Regions from separate parts of the Homo sapiens genome. Here regions 1 and 3 are each reported to be linked to region 2. Evidence: microRNA targets listed by miRTarBase, many of them from high-throughput screens and not tested one by one. Region 2 holds a microRNA gene; each other region holds the end of a gene's coding sequence.
The links. The annotated mature microRNA hsa-miR-3121-5p reads UCCUUUGCCUAUUCUAUUUAAG and lies in region 2 at 1,184-1,205, opposite strand. An mRNA with a match to its seed (bases 2 to 7 or 8) in the 3' UTR can be bound and repressed. Matches are read on the target gene's strand: a 7mer-m8 pairs with bases 2 to 8, a 7mer-A1 pairs with bases 2 to 7 and ends in A, and an 8mer does both.

Region 1: the mRNA of SRD5A3 is a reported target of hsa-miR-3121-5p. Seed matches in the 3' UTR shown: 7mer-A1 at 594-600.
Region 3: miRTarBase lists BLTP3B as a target of hsa-miR-3121-5p. The part of its 3' UTR that is shown has no 7-base or 8-base seed match.

Annotation. Positions count from the first base shown.
Region 1 is chr4:55,369,879-55,373,007 of GRCh38, forward strand. It overlaps SRD5A3 (steroid 5 alpha-reductase 3), which reads left to right. Exons shown (of 5, transcript NM_024592.5): 5 at 1-3,129. The coding sequence ends at 213. The region is part of intron 3 of SRD5A3-AS1 (SRD5A3 antisense RNA 1); the gene reads right to left. Among named protein-coding and RNA genes, the nearest start is that of LINC02928, 6.4 kb to the right of the region's middle.
Region 2 is chr1:180,437,175-180,440,303 of GRCh38, forward strand. MIR3121 (microRNA 3121) reads right to left here and starts at 1,216; the gene lies at 1,140-1,216. The region is part of intron 3 of ACBD6 (acyl-CoA binding domain containing 6); the gene reads right to left.
Region 3 is chr12:100,035,005-100,038,133 of GRCh38, forward strand. It overlaps BLTP3B (bridge-like lipid transfer protein family member 3B), which reads right to left. Exons shown (of 21, transcript NM_015054.2): 21 at 2,068-2,751. The coding sequence ends at 2,632. Among named protein-coding and RNA genes, the nearest start is that of ANKS1B, 52 kb to the left of the region's middle.

The sequences.
Region 1 (3,129 bases), not on the chromosome of region 2:
GAATATGTTTCTTCCCCTAACTACTTAGCAGAGCTGATGATCTACGTTTCCATGGCCGTCACCTTTGGGTTCCACAACTTAACTTGGTGGCTAGTGGTGACAAATGTCTTCTTTAATCAGGCCCTGTCTGCCTTTCTCAGCCACCAATTCTACAAAAGCAAATTTGTCTCTTACCCGAAGCATAGGAAAGCTTTCCTACCATTTTTGTTTTAAGTTAACCTCAGTCATGAAGAATGCAAACCAGGTGATGGTTTCAATGCCTAAGGACAGTGAAGTCTGGAGCCCAAAGTACAGTTTCAGCAAAGCTGTTTGAAACTCTCCATTCCATTTCTATACCCCACAAGTTTTCACTGAATGAGCATGGCAGTGCCACTCAAGAAAATGAATCTCCAAAGTATCTTCAAAGAATAAATACTAATGGCAGATCTGCGATTTCTGGGTCCACTTTCTGAGATGCTTTCTAAAACCAACCAACTGATAAAAAGTAGATGAGACTTCTCCAAGCTGCTTCACAAGCAAACTAACCGAAAAACCGAAAATATACAAACAGCTTCACACACACACACACACACACACACACACACACACACACACAAAGGAAGATCATCAATGGCTGCGGTAGCCTAGTAGGAATGGACTATATAATAATATAGCAGGTGCTCAATAACTGTTTGTTGCATTTCAGTAAAAGCAGAATAACCTTTCAAAATAATAACAGGCTGGGTGCAATGGCTCACACCTGTTAATCCCAGCACTTCGGGAGGCCAAGGTGGGCAGTTCGCTTGGGCCCAAGAGTTCGAGACCAGCCTGGGCAACATGGTGAAACCCTATCTCCGTGAAAAAATATGAAAATTAGCCAAGAGTGGTGGCACATGCCTGTAGTCCCAGATACTTGGGAGTGGGCTGAGATGGGAGAATCGCTTGAGCCCAGGAGGTCAAGGGTACAGTGAGCCGAGGTCATGCCACTGCACTCCAGCCTGGCCTGGGCAACAGAGCAAGACCCTGTCTCAAAATAATAATAATATATAATTTTACACCAAAAGTTTCAGGAAAAAACGAGTTTGTTGGAGTTAGTTTATACTTTCACATATCACCACAAAGATCTCCAGTTAAATAACTATCAATATCCATTTCCATTCATCTCCCCCTCAAATCATAGCCTAACAGAACACTTTGAAAGCTCTTTTATTTAATATTTTTTTACATCCTTTGAAGGGAGTGCTTCAAAAATGAAAGCATCAGAAGATAAAATATTTTTATATTTATGCATAGCAAGCCTTCGTGAACGGAAGTGACACACTCTGGATTGAATAATACTGTAGCCTCATTCATATGTAGTTATTCAAATTGGATTAATGTCTGTGTGAGTTTATTTGAACTAGCAGAAAGTATCTGAAGATATTCAGGAATAAAGTTTATACTTAAAATAGCTTATGTTAAAGAAAATACCTGTGATTAATTCAGAGGGAAATAAATGCATGGTATAAAAGAAAACCAAAAACTTAAAAAATAATACTATAGCCTGAGCAACACATTAAAACTGCACACTTGTGCAGCGTAAGATTCTCTGGCTTATTGGCTGAGGTGTTAAGTTTATTCCTTTTATGAAGATGTCCTATTACAGTCAGCTAAGCACTAAAGCTTTGCATTTATATGTACTTTGCTATGGGGGAAAGAACCTTATGATTAATAAGACACATATCAAATGCATAGTCAATCATTCCCACCCCCATCCCTGGAGCTGTAACCCAAAACTGTTAAACTAAGATTCCTTTGTTTTTTTTGTTTTTTTGAGATGGAGTCTCACTCTGTCGCCCAGACTGGAGTGCAGTGGTGGGATCCTGGCTCACTGCAACCTCCGCCTTCTGGGTTCCAGCGATTCTCCTCTGCCTCAGCCTCCCAAGTAGCTGGGATTACAGGCACATGCCACCATGCCCAGGTAATTGTTGTATTTTTAGTAGAGATAGAGTTTCACCATGTTGGCCAGGCTGGTCTCAAACTCCTGACCTCAGGTGATCCACCTGCTTCGGCCTCCCAAAGTGCTGGGATTACAGGTGTAAGTCACTGCTCCCGGATGCATGTCAAGCACATTGGAAAGTTCTTACAACAATTCTGATGGAGGATTTTCTCTCCCATCAACCAAACACCACTTAAGATTAACCTGTGGCTCAGTCTACTTAAATAAATGCCATATTTATTTTACTTATCATTTAGAATTTGCCATTCTCAGGAACAAAACTTTTTGTACATTGGAAATGGAAAACATTGCAGTTTGGTCTTAATTTCCACATGAATATCAAGTGTAATTTTTAATAAATTATTTGGAGAAAAATGTATTTTATTTTAGCATGCAATTTTATGCCCAGGTTAGACTAGAGATTTGGCTGATGTTCTGGAATCTCATTGTACTCTTAAGTAAAATAACGAGCATCCCATGACGCACCCTGTCAGGGGTTGTGAGAAAGCTGCAGTGTCCAGTTTCCCACCCCTGTTTCCTGCTGTCTCTCTCCCACTCATCCCTGTTTCTTACTCATCCCTTTTCCTTCTTTGCCCAAACATCATATTTCTAGGCAAAGATAAGAGAGGAGATAGTGATGTCCTGAAAGGGGTTCAGAACAACGTAGCATGGCCTTTGGTGAAAGCGTCACCGATGGGAAATAATTGAGAATTGTGCAGTGCTTGCAGCGTCAGAATCAGCACTGTTTTTTGTGTTGGTGAAAATATTCCATGTGCGTAAAGGGAGAGCATCAGGGACTTTGCAAATTCTTCACAAGGACCCAGAAATAGCTTAAAGATTCATGGTTTTCCTGTTGGCTTAAATAGCCTTAATCTTTCATTTTCTACTACCATTAAGTCGGGGAAATGACATTGAACTACCTCATTAGCAGCCTTCCCTTGATTAACTACTGACTAAAAGTGTGCTGAAAATGGCCTTTGTTTTTGTGAAGCTCATCCTATACACTAACATTTGCTTAACCATGGATTATTTTGTCTCTACAAAGCTGTGCCCTGTATTCGATTTTTACTTCAATGAGTGGTTATTGCTAGAATTCCTACAAAAAAAAAAAAAACCGTTGCAGATATTTTTGTATGTAGCTTAATAGATATTTAGTTTAAGGAGACTGCAAC
Region 2 (3,129 bases):
TAATAAACTGGCAAATGTGTTTCCCTGAGTTCTGTAAGCCACTCCAGAACTCAGTTGAACCCAAAGAGGGGGTCATGGGAACCACAACTTGAAGCCAGTTGGTAAGAAATTCTGGAGACCGGGGCTTGTGACTGGTCAAGGGGTGGGAGGCAGTCCTGGGGACTGAGTCCTCAACCTGTGGAATCTGACACTATCTCTAGGCACCTAGTGTCAGAACTGATTAGGAGGATACCCAGTTGGTGTCTGCTGCAGAACTGCTCACATAATGTTGGGGAGAAATCCCCACGTATTTGGTCACAGAAGTCTTCTGTTGTTGTAGTGGTATGAGAGCAGAGGAAAAACACAGTTTGAAAGTTTTTCCTAAAATGGCATCCAAATTGGAAAGGAAGAGGTAAAGTTATCTGTTCACAGACAACAAGATTTTATATGTAAAAAAATCCTAAAGATTCCACCCAATCTGTTATTCAGCAAAGTTGCAGGATACAAAATCGTCACACAAAAATCAGGTTAGGTCTGACAGAGACAGACAATAAATGAATAAGTTTTCCAATATTAAAACCTAAGGAGTATTATGAAGAAAAAAAACAGGTCCAGGAACAAGGTTATAATTTGGAATAAGATGGTTAGGGAAAGCCTTCTAGAGAAGGCCCTTTGAATAAAGACAAAGGAAGTGAAGAAGTGAGTCTTGCAGGTATCTGGAGTAGATTGTTCCAGCCATAGGAAAAAGCCAGTGCAAAGGCCCTATGATGAGGGTATGCACAGAATGTTAGAGTAGGGGTCCCCAACCCCTGGGCTGCAGGCCAGTAGCAATACATGGCCTGTCAGGAACCTGGCCGCACAGCAGGAGATGAGTGGCGGTTGAGCAAGCATTACCACCTGAGCTCCACCTCCTGTGAGATCAGCAATAGCATTAGAGTCTCACAGGACTGTGAAGACTATTGTGAACTGCACATGTGAGGGGTCTAGGTTACGCACTCCTTATGAGAATCTAATGCCTGATGATCTGAAGTCAAATGGTTTAATCCTGAAACCATCCCCCTCCAACACTGGCCCCCTAATCCCTGCTGCAGAAAAATGGTCTTCCACTAAACCAGTCCCTGGTGCCAAAAAGGGTGGGGACTGCTGTGTTAGAGAACTTAAAATGTTTCTGTCCTTTGCCTACTCTATTTAAGGTACAGGGTGTCTTAAATAGAATAGGCAAAGGACATAACCATTTAAGAAGCAATAAGACAAGGTTGTTCATGAGACAATCATAGCTTCTATTGGCGCCATTCATTGACTCTCTTAAAGTGAAATAGACAATTGGGAAGAGATAGCTATGGTCCACTTGGTAATTATTTGCTGTGAAATAAAGACTACTAATTAAGAGTTACGTGGTAGTTCAAAAAAAATAAGTATAGTTCTTTTTTCTTTTTTATTTAGACTTCTTTTTAAAGCAAGTTTAGGTTTACAGAAAAATGAACAAAAAATAGGGTTATCTCATACCTCTCACATGTATACAACTCTCCCACCCACTGCCCCCATTACTAACATCTTGCATTGAGTGGCACATTTGTTACAGCTGATGAGCCTATATTAATACACTATTATTAATGAAAGTCCATAGTTTACATTAGGGTTCACTCTTGTATTGAACATTCTATGGGTTTGACAAACATATAATGACATGTACCCACCACTGCGGTACCATTCAGAATAGTTTCACTGCCCTAAAAATCCCGTACTCTACCTATTCACCCTTCCCTCCCTCCCCACTCTCCTCCATACTCTGAACCCACGGCAACTAGTGATCTTTTCACTGCTTTGTTTTACTCTTTCCAGAATGTCAAATGATTAGACTCATACAGTATGCAGCCTTTTCAGATTGGCTTCTTTCACTTAGCATTATGCATTTAAGGTTCCTCCATGTCTTTTCATGGTCTAATAGCTCATTTCTTTTTAAAAATTTTAAATTATTGTAAACATAAAATTTACCATTTTAACCATTTTTGGTATTTAACTCAGTAGTGTTAACTATATGCTCCTTCCCCTGGCCCAAAACACAAGATTTTTCTTGACTCTTTACCGTAAATGGGATTCTGGGAGATAAAACCTACCAAAGTGGAAGGCCCTACTAAGACTGGGGAGGGGCCGGGTGTGGGGGCTCACGCCTGTAATCCCAGCACTGGGGGAGGCCGAGGCGGGTGGATCACAAGGTCAGGAGATCGAGACCATCCTGGCTAACATGGTGAAACCCCGTCTCTACTAAAAATAAAACAACAACAAAATTAGCTGGGCATGGTGGTGGGCGCCTGTAGTCCCAGTTACTCAGGAGGCTGAGGCAGGAGAATGGTGGAACTCAGGAGGCAGAACTTGCAGTGAGCCAAGATTGCGCTACTGCACTCCAGCCTGGGCGACACAGCGAGACTCCGTCTCAAAAAAAAAAAAAATACTGGGGAGGAGTTTTTGACTCCCTAGTCCACACTCAGCCTCAAGCAATTCATCCATTACCATTGAAGTGTTTCTACCAGTTTATGGCCCAAGCATCTTCTGTTATCTTGGTTATGATTCTCTGTATTCACCTGTCTCTCCAGTTTTGGGGATGGCAGTTTGAACTGGTACCTCAATCTCTGATGGATCTAGAACAGTCTTTGATTTTCAGTTTGGTCAGATTACTGTTATTGTTAAGGAGAGGAGTGATAACTTGCAGGTTCTTCACATGTTGAGGCTGAAACTGGAAGTTCAGTGATCTTTTAAAGAGATTTTAAAATTTAAAAAAAGTCTTTAAATTTACCCATATATTTAGCACTTCCAGGACTCTTCATTCCTTTATGGAGGTCCAAATTTCCATCTTATATAATTTTCCTTTCATGTGAAGTTCCTTTAAAATTTACTATAGTTCAGTTCAGTTGGCAATGAATTACCTGCTTTTGTTTATTTGGAAAAAGTTTTTATTTATTTATTTTTATTTTTTAGATGAAGTCTCACTCTGTGGCCCAGGCTGGAGTGCAGTGGTGCAATCTCAGCTCACTACAACCTCTGCCTCCTGGGTTCAAGTGATTCTCCTGCTTCAGTCTCCAGAGTAGCTGGGATTACAGATGCCCACCATGACACCCGACTAATTTTTGCATTTTTAGTAGAGATGGGGTT
Region 3 (3,129 bases), not on the chromosome of region 2:
TCTCAGACTGCTAGTTTGGGATTCACTTAAACAAAAATCATCCTATCTTTTAGGTAGTTTGAATAACACAAACAGGGTAACATATACCTCATACATAGACGTACACACACAATTTAAAGTTTTATGGTCACCTTTAAAAGATAAAAAAGATAAGGGAAAATGTGTGAATTAATGACTAAGCTATAATAAAAGCATATAACTAGGCTTTAAGTCTAAAGACCAGATTACTAATTGTGATTTCAGTCATTTGTCCTTTCTAAGCCTCAGGGCATTTTTTTAAAAAAAATTTCTAACATTTGAATAATACCTACCTCTCAGAATACAGTGTTTTATGAATTTTAAACATCTATAAAAATAGTACTGCTTATAAATAAAAAAATCAAACTAAGCACACAGAATGCTCAGATTATCATAATCTCTACCGTTTGTATGATTTCCTTGGGAAGACCAAATAAATTTAAAAGTAGTAAGTAAAACATTCAGCTTCTATAACAATAAGCAATTATAATATACGATAGAGGCCGGGTACGGTGGCTCACGCCTGTAATCCCAGCACTTTGGGAGGCCGAGGTGGGCGGATCACCTGGGGTTAGGAGTTGAAGACCAGCCTGGCCAACATGGTGAAACCCTGTGTCTACTAAAAATACCAAAAATTAGCTGGGCGTAGTGGTGGGCGCTTGTAACCCCAGTTACTCAGGAGGCTGAGACAGGAGAATCATTTGAACCCACGAGGCGGAGGTTGCGGTGAGCTAAGATCACACCATTGTACTCCAGCCTGGGCAACAAGAGCGAAACCTCATCGCAAAAAAAAAAAGAAAAACATAGAAAAATTTAAATTTATATAGAATAGGTCAATCTTCAGAAACAATGTTAGCTCGGAAGAAGTTAATGTCCCATCAATCCTTCTTTTCCATAACAGACTGTTTTTGCCGAATGTATACCTAAAAATCAAATGTTCTAAGGACATACGCTATACATTTTAAATCTTTAATTAGACATCTGCACATTTAATCTAAGGCTATTATATAGTTTTAGATTAACATGACTTATTATGATTTTTTTAATACTCTGAGGTAAACTACTATCAATTTGCTCTTGGCTATATCCTCTGTACCCAAAACAGTGCCTGTATATTTTAAATAACGTAAATGAAAATGGATGTTAGAGAAGGGGAGGGAAGGCCAGTATTGTTTTCAATAAAGCCTAAATCACTTCAAAATTTAATGTAAACAAAATATGTATTTTCCCCCAAGCACTTATATACCAGGACCACTGTGTATGTCATGCCAAACACGCAAAGCACCATAAAGTGTTGCAATGTGGTTTAAAATTTTCAAGTATCTTAAAGAAAGAGTAGTCCAGCTATTTCATTTTCTATCTTGGATAGATTTATGTTTAAGAATGTGAATTTTAAAATACACACCACTTAGTTAAATTCTATCAGAAATATATTTTAAATCTTTAAAAGTCTCTTGTTTCTTAACACCCATGTACTTTTATTTTATAATGCATGATTGAGATTCTTTCATGTTGATTTCAACCTTAATTCCTAACAAAATAGAATTCAAAATTCACCAACGACTCTTATTATAGAAGACTTGTGTATGTATATATATCTCACATAGAGCTTTAATCAAAACTAGCTTTATAAATTTAGTATGTGCAAACACCCACCTAATATGATTCTATAAGAATGGTATGAAACTGTCTTATGTGCAAGGAAAAAAACATTTCCAAAAACAATCAACTCCTTAAGGAGAAAAAATGAAGGTAAAGAAATTAATATAAATAGTATTAATCAAAATTTTTATAATTACAAATGGTGCCAAATTTAGCAGGATAAATTACTCTTTTGCTTCTAACAACAAATGTTTAAAGGAATGTACAAGTAATGCTTTTAAATCACTTGGCCATAGATTTTGCTTTTGTATAGTTTGTGCTTTTTACTTTTACATTTGTACCATCTTTTTGTTGAAAATTATAGCTTCCACTTATACAATGTACCCATTATTTAAAATGATATTTTTCACATTTTCAAGATATTTTGTAAGTTCAGTAGGGTGATGATTTTCCAAACCCATTAATTATATAGTTTATTGATCTGCTTGGACTTTTTACAATAATTAAATAATTATAGATTTAAGTACATAATTTTAATAACATTTAAAATGTAAGCCTCTTTTCATTTTACATTAGTCATAAAAGCATTTGAATCTTTGTAAATAATAGTAAATTATTAACAAATATGGAGAAATCAATTCAGCAATCTGTGTGAACACAAGAGGTTTTCCTTTTACATTTTAAAAAATGCCGAAAATGAGATATCAAAATTAGGAAATGACATCTTCTTTTCATTAGGCATGTAATTATTTTACACTATGTGTTGACTTCCCTAGATCACAACAGCTTAAAAGAGGGTTAAGCCCCAAAACACAAAACAACCAAAAGATTGTAATGCCCGTACTAATACTTTCTAAACTGGCTTTGAAATAGTCACCACTTCATCACATTCCATTTTGTTTTATTGTCTTTTCATGAAAATAAAAGTCTTCCCCTAACTGGTAACATCCACATTATAAATATAACCTTCCTACTCCAGAGCTATAATTTCAGTTTTGACTGCCACTCCTGCTATTCAACTGTCATCTTCTTTATATGATGAAGAAGAGCATCTTTTTCCAAGTGAGCCTCTGCAAGAGCCATTTTAGCTTTAGCCAGTTCCTGTTTAAGAGATTCATTCTCTTCCATGAGCTGAAATGATAAATGGCGGGGGGATAAGATAATTTAATCATTTCAGGAAATACAGACTATTTATATAGTATCCAAAGGTATGACACTTGGGATAGTAAAAATGCCCATTGCTGGTGAGAGTGCACTTAAGCTGAAAACTGCTTTGAGACAACATTTGGAAACATGTATCAAGCACTTAAAAAATGTTCCCATGTTTTGACCCAGCAATACAAAATACTAACTCCTAATTTCCTAGTCTAATAGTGACTTCATTTCATATGAATTTTCCTGGACCTCTCTATGGCTTTAGACATTGCTGAGCTACACCTACTTTCTCAGCCTCTCTCCTTTTTCTGGCTTTTATGCCACAGCTGTTTCATATTTATCCATTTCAACCTA